Homo sapiens: one gene and its partners. The protein of the gene in region 3 interacts with the protein of the main gene of each other region in a pairwise test. Each region holds a gene or a part of one and is shown on either strand. Other genes may lie near its edges. The genes, in order: POU2F1, STK3 and SNIP1.

Region 1 (3,653 bases), about 130 Mb from region 3:
ATGCAAAGTTCAAGTGTTAGACATTGCCCTCTTAATATTTCTATCAACCTGCTGGTTCCTTTCATTATAGTGTTTAGGTAACTAGCAGTCAAGAGGGAAAGACAGTATTATGGAAGATTGATTTCAGTGTTGCTAATGACTAAAGACCTTGGGTTGAGCATTTCATGAAACCCAGTTGAATATGGACCTAGTAACACGTAGGAACAAGGAGAGAAAAGAAAAAGAGATAATGTGACCTTACTTTCTGAGGGAGAGGAGGCGGAAAATTGCCTTGGTTGCCATGGTAAACTTTCATCCCTTAGAGAGATGTTGGCAAACAGGCTGTATCTCCAGTGCAGAATGTTTACAGTCCTGCACTGTAATTATCTCTCAATGACTGGCAGAATTAATCAGAGCATTTATGTTAATTAGCCTTGCTGCAGTCCCCAAAACAGGTGGTGAGAAATATGCAAATCTATGCAGAATTTTAATGCTTTGCATAACCAGTTTTAATTACCGTAAAATTTTCTCTTCGTGCCCCTCTCTCTTGACTGCAGCATTTTCTCTCTGAGCTTGTGTGTTAGTTGATGGGAGTTGCTAGATTTACCGTTCTGTAAAATATTAGGTGGAAAGTTCTGTGGATCAAGTGATCATTCTCTGAGATGGTATATGGAGAAGTTTCAGACTGACCACCAGGTGTATGTTAAAATATTGGTTTGGAAGGTCTAATGTAGAGGTGAATTGAAAATATATTCTTCCCTTTACCCCCTATTTCTAGAGTTGAGGAATTGGGGGCTATGAAAAAAATCTATAAATTTGTGGGGGATGACTTTATTTTTAAAAATTGTAATAGCAGCTTTGCTGGCATTAGAATTAACAAGTTTAAAAACTTGGTATGTGAAACTAGGAAAATACAAATAAAAGAAAGGAGGTAAACCAGAACTCATGACTGAATAAGCTCATGTTTTAAATGATTCCTAAAAGATGGGGTTTTAAGTACATTTCTTTTAATCAACCATTTGCAATCTTTTATTTCCTACCCACCCCACCTCAGTCTAAATCTAATGAAGAATCGGGGGATTCGCAGCAGCCAAGCCAGCCTTCCCAGCAGCCTTCAGTGCAGGCAGCCATTCCCCAGACCCAGCTTATGCTAGCTGGAGGACAGATAACTGGGGTAAGTGTTCACTGAGAGAATTATAACAAACTTTTTCTGTGTCAGAACTGCCATTGGCCAATAGCTGATTAGAATTGTTCACCATAGCTGGTAGTAACATGGCTATGCCTGGCACTATTGTGTCTTTAAGGAACTTCCTACACTGTAGGTAGTAAGTTGCTCTGAAAAAGGAATTATCTTTGTCGTAAGTTTTCAGGATATCTTTTATTAGAATTGTGGATGCTCTGGATAAATTAAAAACCTTATTAAACCCCTGTTTCAGGTGTTGCTTCATCATGCAATGGAGTAATTATCATATGGTTGAGATCATTACACTGAAAATGGCAGTTATCCATTTGGCATTAAGACATCACTGCAGGGTAGAAGTTAAAGAATGGATTAGTACCTGCAAAAGAAAAACATTTTTCTTTAAGTTACTGTGTAATGATCTAAAATAAAGCATGTGGCTTCATATCCTAGCTCTGCAACTTACCGTATGGCCTAATTACTTCATTTCCCTCTACCTGTTTTCCTTCTGTTAAATGGAGATACTAATAATACCTATCTCACATTACTGTTGTAAAGATTGGAGATAATACATGTAAAACTTATAGAACGGTGCTTGGCATGTAGCATTCAACAAATATTGTTTATTTTTGTACTTGATCTTAGCCAAAAGGCTGAGACGTTCTGTCATTTATTTTTTATGGTTAATAAATTGGCCTGTTTGGCTATATTAAGCTTTTAAGTTTTCAGCTGTCTTTTCTCTAAGGCACCATTCAAAATATTTTTCCAATGTTGAAAATTTGTGTATTAAATTATCTTTGTGGGGGTTGGTTTAGGGCAATGGTAAGGAATAGTTTTTATTCAATTCACATCACATTAACTCCCAAGAATTTCCTAGGGTTTTTTGTTTTCTTTCTTTCTTTCTTTCTTTTTTTCCCAGTTAAGTGTGTTTTGTCAGTGGACAACTGTTTTAAGAACTGTTGCAAAATTGTTCACAAAATCCCATGAGTAGAGATGTATGTATATATATATTATGTAAAAATTAAAAATATATCTATACTTTATATACACACATATCCCTTGAAGGGTATTGAGTTTTTGAATGGTTTGGTTTTGAGCCTTATGTTTCTAATGCACAAATTGTGTTTGATTCTTTTAGAGGAGGTTGTGGCACTAAGTGACTGTACATATACTTCAGAAAATTATGGTTCCATCTTGTTTGATCAATCAGAACTTGTCACCAAAAGAAAAGTAGAACACATTTACTACTTTAAGTGTGTTTGAAATAAGTTGCATTATGAAAACAACTTTAAATATGCTCTAAATACATTTCCTACTTTACTATTTGGGTCTTGTTTTTGGTGACTAGTGTCTACAATAGTAAGAGGGAGTTGGGATTCTAGGTTCCTTTGGCTGGAGCTTCTGTTAAACCTGGGCATTAGGGTTCATTTGCATGTAAAGAGAACGGCTATCACCACCTGTTTCATAGAGATAATGTGTTGGAAAGGAGATGTAAAGTTGCAGAGACTCAGTGCTTTCAATAACAGAAAAGATTGTGTTAGGGAGGGGCCTGTAGGGAGACTTGGAAAAGAAACAAATGGAGCTCATATTCTTTAGTCATATCTTTGGACTTAATGGAAATGATGGAATATGGCAGGGATTCATGCTAATGGGAAGCAGCTGGGCCTTATCAGTTCTTTCCTTGGTTATATCCAGCATCCTTGTTCCTCATTCATCTGACTAATCACTTGCTGTTTGGTTGTGTGTAAATGTATTTTCATATCTTGTCAGTGGTGATTCTTTTTTTTTTTTCTTGCTTACTAGTTAATTACTTTTTTGCCCAAACCCTAGGGCCCTGGACAAGCTTGAATGATTAAGTCCATAGTGGGGACCACCATTTTAATTTAAATGTTCTGCTAGTAATGGTAGTTTGATCACTGATGAACATTTTAGCTGTCTGCTAAGCAAGTGAAGTTGGGTAGCTGGGGACTGATATCATTTGAGTTACCTATTTTAAAGCAGTTGGCTTGCATTAGGAGACTTTCTCCTTCAACACTTTCCCATAATGTGTTCTGGTTTTGTTTAGCTTACTTTGACGCCTGCCCAGCAACAGTTACTACTCCAGCAGGCACAGGCACAGGCACAGCTGCTGGCTGCTGCAGTGCAGCAGCACTCCGCCAGCCAGCAGCACAGTGCTGCTGGAGCCACCATCTCCGCCTCTGCTGCCACGCCCATGACGCAGATCCCCCTGTCTCAGCCCATACAGATCGCACAGGTGAGTGAGGAACTCCAATAGCTGGGGCAGCAAGTGAGGAATAAAGTGGCAGGTTTTATTTAATGTTAGATTAACTTTTTGATTGTTAGTGTGGGGCCTTAACTGCCTGAGGAGCTCTAGATCAGTGAGGTAAGCGGTACCCTTCCTTACCACTGAATTAGAAATAATGTTTGTTTGCTTATTGTAGTTGATATTGTAAACATATAGCTGATTATTTGAATAACTGACTTTATATTAAGT
Region 2 (3,653 bases), on a different chromosome or scaffold from region 3:
GCTGCCTTGTTTGGCTATGCCCTGCCCCCAGAGGTGGAGTCTACAGAGGTAGGCCAGCCTCCTTGAGCTGTGGTGGGCTGCACCCAGTTTGAGCTTCCTGGCTGCTTTGTTTACCTACTCAAGCCTGGGCAATGGCAGGCGCCCCTCCCCCAGCCTCGCTGCCGCATTGCAGTTTGATCTCACACTGTTGTGCTAGCAGTGAGCGAGGCTCCATGGGTGTAGGACCCTCCAAGCCAGGCGCGGGATATAATCTCCTGGTGTGCCGTTTGCTAAGACCATTGGAAAAGCACAGTATTAGGGTGGGAGTGACCTGATTTTCCAGGTGCCATCTGTCACCCCTTTCTTTGACTAGGAAAGGGAATTCCCTGACCCCTTGCACTTCCCAGGTGAGGTGATGCCCCGCCCTGCTTCAGCTCATGCTCAGTGCACTGTACCCACTGTCTTGCACCCACTTTCCGATACTCCCCAGTGAGATGAATCTGGTACCTCAGTTGGAAATGCAGAAATCATGTGTCTTCTGCAATGCTCACGCTGGGAGCTTTAGACTGGAGCTGTTCCTATTCAGCCGTCTTGTCTCCATCCCTATTTATTAGTTCTAATAGGTTTTTTTTGTGGAATCTTTAGAATTTTCTACATATATGATCATATCATCTGTGAACAGAGATAATTTTACTTCTTTTTTTCCAGTTTGGATGCCTTTATTTGTTTTTCTTCCCTAATTGCTCTGTCTAGAACCTCCAGTACTATATGTAACAGAAGTATTAGGCTGGTGCAAAAGTAATTTCGGTTTTTGCCATTACTTTAAAAAAAAAATGGCAAAAACTGCGATTACTTTTGCACCAACCTAATAGCATCCTTTCATTGTTCCTGATCTTTGTGGAAAAGCTTTCAGTCTTACTGCTTTGAGTATGACATTTACTTTGGGTTTTTTGTATATGGCTTTTACTATGGTGAGATAGTTTCCTTCTATTCATATTAGTTGTGTGTTTTATGAAAAGAAGTTAAATTTAATCAAATGCTTTTTCTGTTTTCATTTGAAATGATCATGTGGTTTCTTCTCCATTCTGTTAAGGTGGTGTATTGCATTGTTCGATTTTGTATGTTGAATCAACCTTGCATTCCAGGAATACATTCCAGTTGGTCATAGTGTATAACCTGTTACAATCCTGTTGAAGTGAGTGTGCTATATTTTGTTGAGGATTTTTGTATCAATGTTCATAAGGGATATTGGTCTTAGTTGTTTTGTGGTAACTTTGTCTGGCTTTGATATCAGAATAATGCCTCTTAAAATGAGTGTGGAAGTGTTCTCTTTTCTTCAGTGTTTTAGAAAATTTGAGAAGTTGAATCAAGATATTTTAATCTTTTTTTTTCCTTTTTGTGGAGTGTATGTTCCCAGATAGCCATTCACATGGTTGGCCCCATTATATCATTTAGACTTCAGTAAAATGTCTTTTGGGCCTTCTTGAATGTCAATCTAAAGTAGCTTCTCAGTCGTTCTCTATCAGTAGCTCTCTATTGTTGTCCTCATAGCAATTTTCACAGACATTTTCCTGTGTTATCCTATTTTCTATCAAATTATCCCGTTGCTTATAGATAGAATATAAGCTTGAGAGCAGTCCCTAATCATTTAGAATTTTTATGGTTGATTCTGTTACATAGGCATGATTGATTAAGTCTTTGGACATTTGTGCTTAACTAAATCTCTACCCCCTCTCTCCTTGCAGCCCTCCCGTAAGTCAGGGGTCAGGCAGAAATTTCCAAACATCTAATCACTTGGTTGGTTTTTTCGGCAACCAGCTCCCATCCTGAAGCTATCTAGGCTCCCACCAAGAGTCACCTGATCAGTATAAATTCTGGTATGGTTGAAAGGAGCTTATTATGAATGACAAAAGACAGCCCCTCTCACTCTTGTGAGAGGGTGAGAAAACAAAGATAAAATATCTTGATTCAACTTCTCACTCACTCAGTCAATTCACAGGGTCTTAGGAGATTTTGTGCCAAGAACCTACAAAGACCAAATATTTCCTGTGATTTCATAATATCACACTACCTTACAAGGTTGTTTTAAGAATAAATGAGAGAATGCATGCATAACTCTTAGCACATTGCCTGGTACAGATAGCAGTGGCTCTACTGCTACAACTGTTAAGAAGATTTTCTTTCTTTCCCATCCGTCTCTTCCTCGGCCTTCTCTACTCTCCCCTTTTTCCCTCCTCTGATAGTCTTTGCTTGTGTTTCCATTTTCCTAATCTTTCTCTGACGTTTTTTCTTCTGAGTTCTCAATATTAGGTCAGAAGTCCAGAACTTGGAAGGGTTAGGAGTGGCATTGGTGTAGGAGCTTCTCGCAGAAGATTCATTGCAAGCCTCCCTCCCTCATTTACTTTCCTTTATGTAAAGCTGTTGGTTTCATTTTCATCAAGAATCTGAAATATCTCAGGGGAAGTATCTGAATTTACTTTTTCAGAACAGATATTAGCTGTGATAGTGCCCTCCCAGTATTAGAAGATGTGGGAAATCACTATTATGATTCCTTATATCAGGCTGATTCTTGAGATATGTTGTTTGCTTTAGGAATGATACTGATAATTTTTTTTTTTTTTTGAGATGGAGTCTCGCTGTGTCGCCCAGGCTGGCATGCAGTGATGTGATCTCAGCTCACTGCAACCTCTGCCTCCCAGGTTCAAGTGACTCTCCTGCCTCAGCCTCCTGAGTAGCTGGGATTACAAGTGCACGCCATCACGCCTGGCTAATTTTTGTATTTTTAGTAGAGACGAGGTTTCACCATGTGGGCCAGGCTGGTTTTGAACTCCTGACCTCAAGTGATCTGCTCGCCTCAGCCTCCCAAAGTGCTGGGATTACAGGTGTGAGCCACCACGCCCTGCTGATACTGATAATCTTAAAGAGAGAAATTTGATCATCCTTTCATTAGTAAAATGTGTAATAAGAAAGCTTATTGTGGGAAGAAGAGGTTCTCGATTATTTACCCCTTTAGCATTTTCCTGGAGGTTTAGCGGTCATTAGAAAGAAGTACTTGTGGCTAGGCATGGTGGCTCACACCTATAATCCCAACACTTTGGGAAGCTGAGGAAGGAGAATTGTTTGAAGCAAAGAGTTCAAGACCAGCCCGGGCAACATAGCGAGATCCCCATCTCTACAAAAATAAAAATAAGTTAGCCTATTGGGTTGGCATGTGCCTGTAGTTCTAGCTACTCGGGAAGCTGAGGTGGGAGCATGCCTTGAGCCCAGGAATTTTAGGCTGCAGTGAGCTATCATCACACCACTGCACTGTAGCCTGGGCAACAGAGTGGGGTCTCTTAAAAAAAAACACACACACACACACGGAAAGACATACTTGTTACTAGTGCTCTTTCGTAAGATTTTATCTAACGTGGCATTTTAATTATGGTTTTAAAAATATTTCTTTCCAGTTAATAGAAGATGAAATTGCAACCATTCTTAAATCTACATTGAAAGGACTAGAATATTTGCACTTTATGAGAAAAATACACAGAGATATAAAAGCTGGAAATATTCTCCTCAATACAGAAGGACATGCAAAATTGGCAGATTTTGGAGTGGCTGGTCAGTTAACAGTAAGTTAACTTTAATGGTTTTCTAAACACTTGGCTAATTTGTTCAGATTTGATTATAAC
Region 3 (3,653 bases):
TAATTTGCGTTTTCCTTTTTTTTTTTTTTTTGAGACAGAGTCTGGCTCTGTCACCCAGGCTGGAGTGCAGTGGCACGATCTCGGCTCACTGCGACCTCCGCCTTCTGAGTTCAAACGATTCTCCTGCCTCAGCTTCCCGTAATTTGCATTTTCCTAATGGCTTATGATATTGGACATCTTTTCTTTGTGTGTCAGTGTGTGTGTGTGTGTGTGTGTGTGTGTGTGTCACCCAGGCTGGAGTGCAATGGCGTGATCTTGGCTCACTGCAATCTCCCCTTCCCAGGTTCAAGTGATTCTCCTGCCTCAGCCTCCTGAGTAGCTGGGATTACAGATGCCCACCACCACGCCCAGCTAATTTTTTGTATTTTTAGTACAGAAAGGGTTTCACTATGTTGGCCAGGCTGGTCTCAAACTTCTGACCTCGTGATCTGCCTGCCTCGGCCTCCCGAAGTGCTGGGATTACAAGCGTGAGCCACTGCACCTGGCCTTGGACGTCTTTTCATGTGCTTATTTGCCATCTATATGTATCTTCTCAGGTGCAATGTCTCATGTCTTTTGCCTGTTTATTTTTTATTTTTTATTTTTTATTTTTTGAGACGGAGTTTCACTCTTGTTGCCCAGGCTGGAGTGTAATGGCGCGATCTCAGCTCATTGCAACCTCAGCCTCCCAGGTTCAAGGGATTCTCCTGCCTCAGCCTCCCAAGTAGCTGAGATTACAGGCTCGTGCCACCATGCCCAGCTAATTTTTGTATTTTTAGTAGAGATGGGGTTTCGTCATTTTGACCAGGCTGGTCCTGAACTCCTGACCTCTGGTGATTCACCTGCCTCAGCCTCCCAAAGTGCTGGGATTACAGCAAAGTGAGCCACCATGCCCAGCTATCTTTTGCCTGTTTTCTAATACTATTATTTGCTTTTTTACTGTTTAGTGTTTAAGAATTCTTTTTATATTGTGGATACTAGCCCTTTGGGGATAAATGGTTTACAAATATTTTTTCCCAGTCTGTAGCTGTCTTCATTTTCTTAACAGGGTTTATCTCAGAGCAAAAGTTTTTAATTTCAATGAAGTCCAGCTTATCTGTTTTTCCTTTTATGGATTGTGCTTTTGATGTCATGGCTAAGAACTTTTTGCCTAGCCCTAGATCTCTGAAATTTTCTCCTAAATTTTTTTTCTTAAAAGTCCATGATCTGCTTTCAGTTTCTTTTCAGGGTTTCAGGGTTTTTGTTTTGTTTTGTTTTGTTTTGTTTTGTTTTTGTTTTTTTTGCCTATGAATGTCCACTTGCATCAACACCATTTGTTGAAAAGACCATCTTTCCTCCAATGAATTACTTTTGCTCTTTTGTCAAAAATCAGTTGGGCATATTTGTGTGGGTCTATTTCTGGAATCTCTGTTCTGTTTCATTTGTCAGTGTCTGTCACTCTGCCAATACCACACAGTCTTGATTACTATAGCTATATAATAAGTCTTGAAATTGTATGGACTGATTTTTCCCATTGTAGTCTTCTTTATAAAAATTGCTTTAGCTATTCAGCTTCTTTTTTCATCCATGTAAGTTTTAGAACAATCTTGCCTCTATTTTTAAAAAGTCTGGGCCGGTCACAGCGACTCATGCCTGTAATCCCAACACTTTGGGAGGCTGAGGTGGGCAGATCACTTGAGCTCAGGAGCTCCAGACCAGCCTGGGCAACATGGTGAAACCCATCTGTACAAAAAATACAAAAATTAGTTGGGCGTGGTGGCATGCCTGTGGTCCCAGCTACTCAGGAGGCTGAGTAGCTCCTGAGTGGGAGGATTACTTGAGCCTAGGAGGTTGAGGCTGCGGTGAACAGTGATCATACCACTGCACTCCAGCCTGGGCGACAGAGTGAGATCTGAAAGAAAAGTCTTGCTAGGATTTTGATAGGATTTGTGTTAAACTGGCGTTTGGGGGCAATAATTGACTTTTTACTATGTTAAATCTTCTAATCCATGAACATTGTGTATCTCCCCTTTTATTTAGATCATCTTTGATATCTTTTATCAGTGGTTGTAGTTTTCAGCTTATAAATCCTATACATATTTCTTTGTGGAATGATTATAAAGGGTATTTTAAATGAGTGTCCAAATGTTCATTGTTACTATATAGAAATATAATTCATTTTTGTGTGTTTATCTTCATCCTATATCCTTGCTGAACTAATGTATTCTAGTTTTTTTTTTTTTTTAAGATTACTTGGGATTTTCTACGTAGACAATCATATCTACAAATAGGGACAGTTTTATTTCTTCCTTTACAATCTGAATGCATTTTATTTCCTTTTGTTGTTTGCATTAGTCCGTTTTCATGCTGTTGATAAAGACATACCCGAGACCCGGCGATTTACAAAAGAAAGAGGTTTAATGGACTTACAGTTCCACATGGCTGGAGAGGCCTCACAATCATGGTGGGAAGCAAGGAGGAGCAAATCACACGGATGGCGTCAGGCAAGGAGAGATAAAAGAGTAATGAGAGCAGACACTCTTGCCTTATTCTCAATTTTGAGGGATGAGAATTCAGTCGTCTTTTTTTTTTTTTTTTCTTTTTTTTTTGAGACGGAGTCTCGTTCTGTTGCCCAGGCTGGAGTGGCGCAATCTCTGCTCACTGCAGCCTCCGCCTCCTGGGTTCAAGGGATTCTCCTGCCTCAGCCTCCCAAGTAACTGGGATTAGAGTCTGGGCCGATCACAGTGGCTCATGCCTGTAATCCCAGCACTTTGGGAGGCCGAGGCGGGTGGATCACCTGAGGTCAGGAGACCAGCCTGGCCAACATGGTGAAACTTCGTCTCTACTAAAAATACAAAAATTAGCTGGGTGTGGTGGTGGGCGCGTGTAATCCCAGCTACTTGGGAGGCTGAGGCAGGAGAATCACTTGAACCTGGGAGGCGGGGATTACAGTGAGCCAAGATCGCACCACTGCACTCCAGCCTGGGTGACAGAGCAAGACTGTTTTAAAAAAAAAAGCAAATTTTAAAAGACAAATAACAGTATAACAACTATTTATATAGCATTTACGTTGTATTAGGTATTATAAATAACCTAGTGATGATTTAAAGTATACAGAAGGATATTCACAGATTTTTATATAAGGAACTTGAGCATCCTAAGATATCTTTTTTTTTTTTTTTTTTTTTTTGATATGGAGTCTCGCTGCGTTGCCCAGGCTGGAGTGCAGTGGTGCGATCTCGGCTTACTGCAAGCTCCGCCTCCCGGGGTTCACGCCATTCTCCTGCCTCAGCCTCCTGAGTAGCTGGGACTACAGGCGCCCGCCACCATGCCTGGCTAATTTTTTTGTATTTTTTTTTTAGTAGAGACAGGGTTTCACTATGTTAGCCAGGATGGTCTCCATCTCCTGACCTCGTAATCCACCTGCCTTGGCCTCCCAAAGTGCTGGGATTACAGGCATGAGTCACTGCACCTGGCCCTGAGATAATCTTTTTTATCCACTGGGGATCCTGGAACCAATCTCCTGAGGATACCAAATGATTACTTTATTCTTTTCTCAACCTCTGAACCACCATTTTGTGTTTTTTTTTGGTTGTTGTTGTTGTTTGTTTGGTGAAGTGTTGCTCTGTTGCCCAGGCTAGAGTGCAGTAGTGTGATCTTGGCTCACTGCAATCTTTGCCTCCTGGGTTCAAGCG

The links.
Region 1: the proteins of SNIP1 (region 3) and POU2F1 interact in binary tests that used the Homo sapiens proteins (3 or more experiments, as listed by UniProt).
Region 2: the proteins of SNIP1 (region 3) and STK3 interact in binary tests that used the Homo sapiens proteins (3 or more experiments, as listed by UniProt).

What each region holds. Positions count from the first base shown.
Region 1 is NC_000001.11:167,370,884-167,374,536, forward strand, and holds part of POU2F1 (POU domain, class 2, transcription factor 1), read left to right. Parts: intron 1-1,033; coding exon 1,034-1,153; intron 1,154-3,224; coding exon 3,225-3,413; intron 3,414-3,653. UniProt on the Homo sapiens protein: Transcription factor that binds to the octamer motif (5'-ATTTGCAT-3') and activates the promoters of the genes for some small nuclear RNAs (snRNA) and of genes such as those for histone H2B and immunoglobulins.
Region 2 is NC_000008.11:98,707,087-98,710,739, reverse strand, and holds part of STK3 (serine/threonine-protein kinase 3), read left to right. Parts: intron 1-3,428; coding exon 3,429-3,593; intron 3,594-3,653. UniProt on the Homo sapiens protein: Stress-activated, pro-apoptotic kinase which, following caspase-cleavage, enters the nucleus and induces chromatin condensation followed by internucleosomal DNA fragmentation.
Region 3 is NC_000001.11:37,547,648-37,551,300, reverse strand, and holds part of SNIP1 (smad nuclear-interacting protein 1), read left to right. Parts: intron 1-3,653. UniProt on the Homo sapiens protein: Required for pre-mRNA splicing as component of the spliceosome. As a component of the minor spliceosome, involved in the splicing of U12-type introns in pre-mRNAs. Down-regulates NF-kappa-B signaling by competing with RELA for CREBBP/EP300 binding.